Linked DNA regions of Homo sapiens. The protein of the gene in region 1 interacts with the protein of each later gene in a pairwise test. Each region holds a gene or a part of one and is shown in the gene's direction. Other genes may lie near its edges.

What was found.
Region 2: the proteins of FMO3 (region 1) and SACM1L interact in binary tests that used the Homo sapiens proteins (3 or more experiments, as listed by UniProt).

Annotation. Positions count from the first base shown.
Region 1 is NC_000001.11:171,114,779-171,118,350, forward strand, and holds the end of FMO3 (flavin-containing monooxygenase 3), read left to right. Parts: intron 1-1,429; coding exon 1,430-1,502; intron 1,503-2,321; coding exon 2,322-2,664; 3' UTR 2,665-3,041; downstream 3,042-3,572. UniProt on the Homo sapiens protein: Essential hepatic enzyme that catalyzes the oxygenation of a wide variety of nitrogen- and sulfur-containing compounds including drugs as well as dietary compounds.
Region 2 is NC_000003.12:45,741,363-45,746,033, forward strand, and holds the end of SACM1L (phosphatidylinositol-3-phosphatase SAC1), read left to right. Parts: intron 1-2,170; coding exon 2,171-2,307; coding exon of another isoform or gene 2,308-2,373; 3' UTR 2,374-4,047; downstream 4,048-4,671.

The DNA of each region.
Region 1 (3,572 bases):
ACAGTCATGGAAAATATGATTGCTGGAAGGCAATGGCTTTTCTACTATTATTTTCTTCCCTGACAAAAAAAGGACAAACAGTGGATCAACAGAGGCAGAAAGTGCTAAGAACAAACAGTGGATCAATAGAGGCAGAAAGTGCTCAGTGTAGTAGATGATCAGTCTGTAATACATAAGAATACTGAGTTCTTATATTTTACAAAGGAAACAACAAACTTGATTGGGGTCAGGCAAGAAAGGCAGGCAGCATCCCCCAGCAGCAGGCTGGAATACAGTTGTGGGGAGATGCAGATCACACGACCAGGTAGCCAGGAAGGTAATGGCATGAAATTTCACTCAGGATTCCACTTAGGGTTCAGACCCAGAGAGGCTGGCATTAAAGGAAGGGTGCTACCCTTACTCTCTATGAGGACAAGAGTTGTAACTTGGGCTCTGAAGAAAGGAAACAAGGCAATTTATGGGGAAAATTGATGTACACGGCACAGGCTCTCTTAAGGGAAATGAGACACAAGGCAAACAACCTAGATTTGGAAAACCAGAGTACCAAGACAAGAGGGGCTAGTTACAAGCAACCCAATGGCAGTAGTCGGCAGGCTAAAAAACAGTCTCTTTCTTTTCAATCTCTTCCTCTGAAAAGCATGACAAGTTCCAAGGCCTGGAACCATACCATATCTACAAAAGCTGTTCAAGTGACCCTCCCTATAAGAAGTGTAGAAATGGGAAATTAAGCAAGCCATTGTAGGTCTTGAGTAATCATATCTGGGCTAAGAGTTTTATTCTCTTTCAAGTTGATACCAAGATTACCAAAGAAATCATCCTAAATTTGAAGTATTTCTGGACACAAAAGGCTGTTTTGGTCTGGGTTTTAGAGAACTCTGCAAACTTATGTAAACCTGGATCCTGGGGCAGCCCCAAGTCAGATCTAGTCTCCTGGGTCTCCCTTATGTCCTTGGTGACTTGTGGACAGTCCATATCCTCAGTCATATTCAAGAACTACTGGCTTCCCATAGAAAAACTTAGCCCTTCACCAAATTCGATATCTTATCTTCTGGAAATTCCATTTTCTGGCAAAGCAGGATTAATTTCTATGAAGATTTTTCTTCATAAATCTTGGAAAAGTGATGCCAATTCACCTCTGTTTGGCTATAATTTAAAAGACAACATTCTTAAAATATGACTGAGATTAAAATATATCTATGAAACTGTTTTGAAACATCTTGTAACCAGTTTAAGAGCAAAGCTATTTAGGTAATGTTTTTTAATTATTATGACAAATATGAGTTCTGAGAAGACTAGAACTGAATTTGGTGTCTGTCTGAAAATGAACACCAATTAATGTAATTCATAACTCATTATTAAAAAGGGAAAATTACAGGCTGGTCCTATGCCAGACTCATTAATTACCATCGTGTCTTTCCTTCTTTATCAGGAACTTGTACTTTGCCTTCTATGGAAGACATGATGAATGATATTAATGAGAAAATGGAGAAAAAGCGCAAATGGTAAGAGTACCTATTGTAATAGGAGTGTAGGATTTCCATAGAAAAGTGAGAATTTATGAATGCTTGGAACTGTTTTAATCTTAAATTATCCTGAATGACATCATTGGAATGACAACTACAAGCTATATTCATCCATTCAACAAATATTAATTGAAGACCTACGTTGCTTCTGACATTGTATTAAGTTCTTTTTAGTACAAGGCACAGAGTAAATAATAGGATTGAGAATCTACATTACATAGACAGTTTTAGCCCTCCATGCCTCCTGTAATATATATCATAGAAAGGAGACCCAGAAAGGATTTGAAATCAGAGGAGTTTGGGAACACATGGATGTGGACTTCCATTCTCTAGCCCATAAATTCTCTAAGATGTAGAGGATATTTCAAAGGTATACCTCTAATGAAAATGACTCAGAAAAGTGAGAATGAATCTGGAGAACTGGGCTCCATTTCTAGTTGTCACTAATTAGCTCAGTGGCCATGAACTATTATAGAAGGGTCATTTGAGCAAGAGGCAATCTATCCATTTGTAAATAAGGATAAAAAATGTCTTTCTCAGCTGCATTGCAGTGTTGGGGTATTTCCAAATGAAACCATATGAAAGTTCTTTAAAAAAACCACAAAGTAGGATAAACAAATGACATTCTCCTTATACAAGAAATTGATGTTGTATGTCAGGGTAGTGTGGGAAATTTTTTTAGAAAGAGAGAGAGATTGATGTTAATTCTCACTGATATAAAGTTGCGAGCCATTTTCTCTGTTCTGTTTCTACACAGAGTTTGGGTATCCACAGTGGTGTTTTCTCTCCCATCTCCAGGTTTGGCAAAAGCGAGACCATACAGACAGATTACATTGTTTATATGGATGAACTCTCCTCCTTCATTGGGGCAAAGCCCAACATCCCATGGCTGTTTCTCACAGATCCCAAATTGGCCATGGAAGTTTATTTTGGCCCTTGTAGTCCCTACCAGTTTAGGCTGGTGGGCCCAGGGCAGTGGCCAGGAGCCAGAAATGCCATACTGACCCAGTGGGACCGGTCGTTGAAACCCATGCAGACACGAGTGGTCGGGAGACTTCAGAAGCCTTGCTTCTTTTTCCATTGGCTGAAGCTCTTTGCAATTCCTATTCTGTTAATCGCTGTTTTCCTTGTGTTGACCTAATCATCATTTTCTCTAGGATTTCTGAAAGTTACTGACAATACCCAGACAGGGGCTTTGCTATTTAAAAATTAAAATTTTCACACCACCTGCTTTTCTATTCAGCATCTTTTGCAGTACTCTGTAGACATTAGTCAGTAATACAGTGTTATTTCTAGGCTCTGAAATAGCCACTTTAAGAATCATGTCATGATCTTAAGAGAGCACTAATCATTTCTGTTTGAGTTCCACTAACACTTCAAAATCAGAACTATGTTCTTTATATCTAACTTAAATCATTTCCTGAAACATTTTGACATGATTCCTTTTTCCTTTTAAACAATGTATGAAAGATGTATTTTAAATCTAAATAAAGAGCAAATTAAGCAGAATAATTATAATATGATACTCTCAGGCTACTTCTATAAGCTATTTGCAGGGTCAAGGGGGGAGCTTGGCTATTACATTATTTTTCATTTGTTTGTTTTGTGCAACATAATCCAGGTAAGACCTCCTCTTCTCTGCCCAAGAAACATAGCATAAAGACCTGGTCTATATTGAAAGTTAACACAAAGTAATTTGTTTTATTTATATTCTCAATAAGGAAACAAACTTTTCAACTTCTAGCAGCAAAAGAATAATAGCAATAGCAATGAGTGTAGTACCAAATAATACACCTTTTAGCTTAATCTTTTAAAAATTAAATATTTAGCCAAAACTGTGACCAAAATCTAATGCTTATAGATTAAAGATTTATAGTCTTATATAGTCTACCCCAATAAACTTACGAGGTACCAGAATAAATCTAAAACTGTATTTTATAGTGTATTACATTTTATAGTTAAAATTTTCATAATTATGATTTTTAAATTTTGACATTATAGAGCAGATAAAATCACCTGCCAGAATCATCAGTCATCAGAGGGCTCCAC
Region 2 (4,671 bases), on another chromosome or scaffold:
ATACCTCTTTGGTGTACCTGACATACCCAGTGTGTATTTCTTTTTGGATGGTAATGATTTGCATACTTGTTTGTTTTTTTCACTGGATCAGCAACTTTTTGAAGGTAAAGACTGTGTCTTACTCATTGTTTTATCTCCTTTGTCCAGGATATAGTGAGCCCTCAGTAAATGTTTGCTGAATTAAGGACTCACTCCACCACCACCACTAATTCTGTCACCTTTTTGATAGGGAGGCTCAGTTACCTGTTCATCTCTGTATTCCCCTCAGTGCTCAGCCCTGTAGACAGTCGTGACATAGTTTTAACTAAATGCTGAAATGTTGAGTAGGGGGAAAGAAAGAGCCATCTTATTATTATTATAGTTAGCAAAATTTTTCTGTAAAGAGCCAGGTAGTAAATATTTTTGTCTTTATGGATGGCTGTACATTCTTTGTTTTTGTGTTTATAACCATTTAAAAATGTAAAAAGCATTCTTACCTTACAATACAAAAACAGGTTGAAGCACAGGTATTGCCTGGGACATGACTGCAGGTTTTAGGGCAGGAAGGAAGAGGCAGCATGTGCCGGTTCCTCAGCGGCCAGCCCTGCTTTCATTTCCTCTCTGGGTCCTCTGCCTTCTTTCCTGAAAACACTGCCCAGCGCATGCCATTTTTGGGGAGCCACTCTACTGTTAAATTAGTTCATTTTGTTGTTGTGACTATACCCACATTTACTTAAAGAACCTCTGGAGAGGCAGGAAAGTCAAGACCAAGAACTCTGCTTGAATGAAACGGATGATTCCTTTAGGGAGTGTCCAGCAGAGTGGCTAACAAGGAACTGCCCTTCTTCTTTTGTCCAAGAAGAATTTTAAACTTCAGAGCCATGAAAATGAGCAATTATGCAAATTCGAGTATATTTTGAGTAAAAAGAGATTGGATGCTGTGGATGGTAACTTCTCATGTCAGTTTATTCTTATGATAAACTTTGTGATGTTTGGTTATGGTAATATCTGATTTCTAGCTCCTGCTGTGGTTTTCAAAGAGAATAGAAAACAAATGTAGCATGATCTCTGAGGGCTTGTTAGGAAGGAGTCTGGATGCTAGTTTCTTCCGTGGTGTGCTCACTGGCTGTCATTCCCTGTATGTATTTCTCCTTCTGCAAATGAGGCCAGTAGTGTTGCAGAGAGAGAAGCTATTCTCTAGGTTCAGCTATTCAAGGAGTAAAACAAAGTAGATCTTTGCCCACCGGCTTGCTGCTAACCTTTATGAACTTCGGACTTTGGAAAATGCATATCAGCAGAGTTGGGTTAAATATGTCATTAAAATAGGTTATTGGCTGGGTGCTGTGGTGTGTGCCTATAGTCCCAGCTACTCAGGAGGCTGAAGTGGGAGGATCACTTGAGCCCAGGAGTTCTGGTCTGTAGTGTGTTATGCTGATCGGATGTCCGCACTAAGTTCAGCATCAATATGGTGACCTCTTTGAGCAGGAGATCACCAGGTTGCCTAAGGAATGGTGAACTAGTACAGGTTGGAAACAGCAGGACAAAACTTTCATGCTGATCAGTAGTGGAATGGTGCTTGTGAATAGCCACTGCACTCTAGCCTGGGCAACACAGCAAGACCCCATCTCTAAAGAAAATGTTATTGACTTTTGTTTTATATATTTGTGTATATGCAAAAAATACTCTACAAAATATACATAACTTCAGAAAAGTTATGTATAACTTATGTTTGGTATTTATGAATATTCTATTAATTTTTTGTGCAGGTGTTTTGACAATAGCTCATATCTGTTATAGAACTATGAATTAAACTTAATAGTTATTTGTATTATTAAAATATACTAAAAGTGATCATTATTATTTGTATAATATAATATGAAATCATTTAGTCCAGTGGTTCTCAAAGTGTAGCCTCTTGATCGGTAGCATCAGCATCACCTGGGTACTAGGAACTTGCTAGAATGCAGATTCCTGGGGCCCAACAGTTGATGCTTTATCAAGCCCTGCAGAAGATTCTGGTACTAGCCAGGGTTTGAGAACCACTGGTTTAAACCTTAATTAAGAGGTTCTTATATTTTTCCTGTGAATGTGCTAGTAAACTTTAATGTTGCCAAAATGTGCTAAACAGCTGAAAACTGGGTCTGATATCAACAAACGACTTATTTAGCTTTTTGTTTCTTAATATCAACAGGTGACACTTGGACAGAAACACTGGCCTATGTGCTCTTCTGGGGAGTTGCAAGCATTGGAACATTTTTTATCATTCTTTACAATGGCAAAGATTTTGTCGATGCTCCCAGACTGGTCCAGAAAGAAAAGATAGACTGAATTTGTATTTGTGGAAAGCGGCTTGGCTTGGAAGATTCCATTGTGCAGAACTGGAGTCTTTACTGACCCGCTTTCCACATCAGCCCAAGGTCTTTTTAATGCCTTTATCCAAAAGCACATCTTGTGCTCCATGCAGGATGATGACAGAATTGATCTGATGTTACTGCCTTGATGGTCTCTTTACTATTGGGACAGTTAGATTTATAATTTGAAGCTATTCTGTAATTAAAATATAACCTGAATTCAGCTTGCAGAATGGAAGCTGAATCTGTTCATTGTATTCTATTGATTGTCAATTTAATTAGCTGTTGCAGAATAAGTAATATATTTTAAAAACCTAGCTCCTTTCATTATTTAAAACAGCAAAATTATTTTTGTAGCTCAGTTTCATTATTGTCATTGTAGAAGCGGTCACTATTAGCAGGCATACTTTTCCACACATCTTTGGACTTTTCTTAAAAGTTCAGTAATAAGCTAACTGTGTTTATAAAATGTAAGTCTCTTACAGACATCAAGTAGTTTGATGAGACAGTCTGTGACTTCATGATAGGAAAGAGGAGGATGAGGTCTGGGGTTCTTTAAAGTCTCTGGTGGGCTGCCTCATGACTTTAATCAGCTTGAACTGCCAGTGCACCAGCAGTTTAGGTGTGATGAGAGAATTCAGATATACTTTATCTTTTTAAAAAAGTGTAAATAAAATCAAAGAATGTAAAGTCTATCTCTTACGCTAGAGGTCCAAAGCTGCCTCTGTTTTAAAGATTATCCCAATGTGGAAGATGCCCATGACTGGTCAGCTACTTCCTCCTATACATTTTGGTTTCTTTGAGGGTCACTCATTGAGACACGCAGGCCTCTGAGAGGGTCTTGTTCTAGATTTCATATTGCACTTGGAGGGTAACAGCTGCTTTTTCACGCATGGTACTCTTGATGTTTTTCACTCTGTCAAGGATTTTGTTGGCTATCAATGAATGTGTCTAAAACTTAGTGCTTCCAGGTAGTTATAGTACTCCAAATCAAGGACCAACTTAAACGTTAATTTTTGTGCAAAAACAAACCTGAAAAATATGCTTCGGAAACTGTGCATAGTTCTAATTGTAAGTCAGATTGTATATTCAAATTGTAATTAAGAGATTTAAATATTAGAACGGTATGTAAGGTAGTATAATTACCACTATTTTAAATAATTCAGTTAAACACTGCTGCAATATTTCAGTGTTGTGCTTGAAAATATGTACAGTTTTTTTCCAATATTAATACCTTATGTTGTCCTTAAATATTTCTAAAAGCGCCTTTATTTCAGCATTACCTTTTTTTCATCACTATCTTTTATAAAACATTAATATAAGTCGTTACTTTTAGAAACTAAAGGAAATAATAGCTGGAAAACCCTCTGTAGTTTAAAATCAGTCATTAAACTCACAATAGGGTAAGTAAATATAGCCACCTGTTAACATGTAAATAAGCATAATTTGTTCCAAAGATGGAATATTGAAACTTAGTTCATGTCTGCTGTAAAATATTATTTAAATGCTGCTGGGCATTTCACTTAAAGAACTTAATGTCAACAGCTACAACAAAGACCAAATCTGAACTGCTAATGTGGCTGCTTTGTAGGGAATGGACTAATATCAGTGTGTTAGATCTTAAGGTATCAGTATTTCAGAATCCTGCGACGATTTTATTTCTAAATTCATGTACTGTATGTCCATAAGTGAAAATAAAATGTCATATTCTTTTCTATTATTGGTATCATTCATGTACTTTGAAAGTGATGTTTTTCTTTTTGATCTTAGAATGCTAAAAATCATGCAAAATGATAGACGGTTTGGCTCTGTGTCCCCACCCACCCAAATCTCATCTCAAATTGTAATCCCTACGTGTTGAGGGAGGTACCTGGTGGGAGGTGGTTGGATCATGGGGGATGGTTTCCCCCATGCTGTTTTCATGAGTTTGCACGAGGTCTGATGGTTTAAAAGTGTTTGGCATTTACCCCCTTGCTCGCTCACTTTCCTGCCACCGTGTTAAGATGTGCTTTGCTTTCCCTTCACCTTCTGCCATGATGAAGTTTTGTGAGGCCTCCCCAGCCATGCGGAACTGTGAGTCAAACCTCTTTTCTTTATATGTTACCCAGTCTCAGGTAGTTCTTTACAGCAGTGTGAAGACAAATTAATACACAAAGCAATGCATGATCATCATAGAAAAATTAGAGTAAGCAAGAAAATCAGTAGCTTCTGCAATTTTGCTTTCCAGTTATGATCACTTAAGAAATTTTGTATCTCCTTATAGTTTTTATTTTTAGTTATAGAGAAACCCAGGGAAATATTTAGTAAAGTGTAATGTCCATAAAAAGGTGTCCCCCACCTT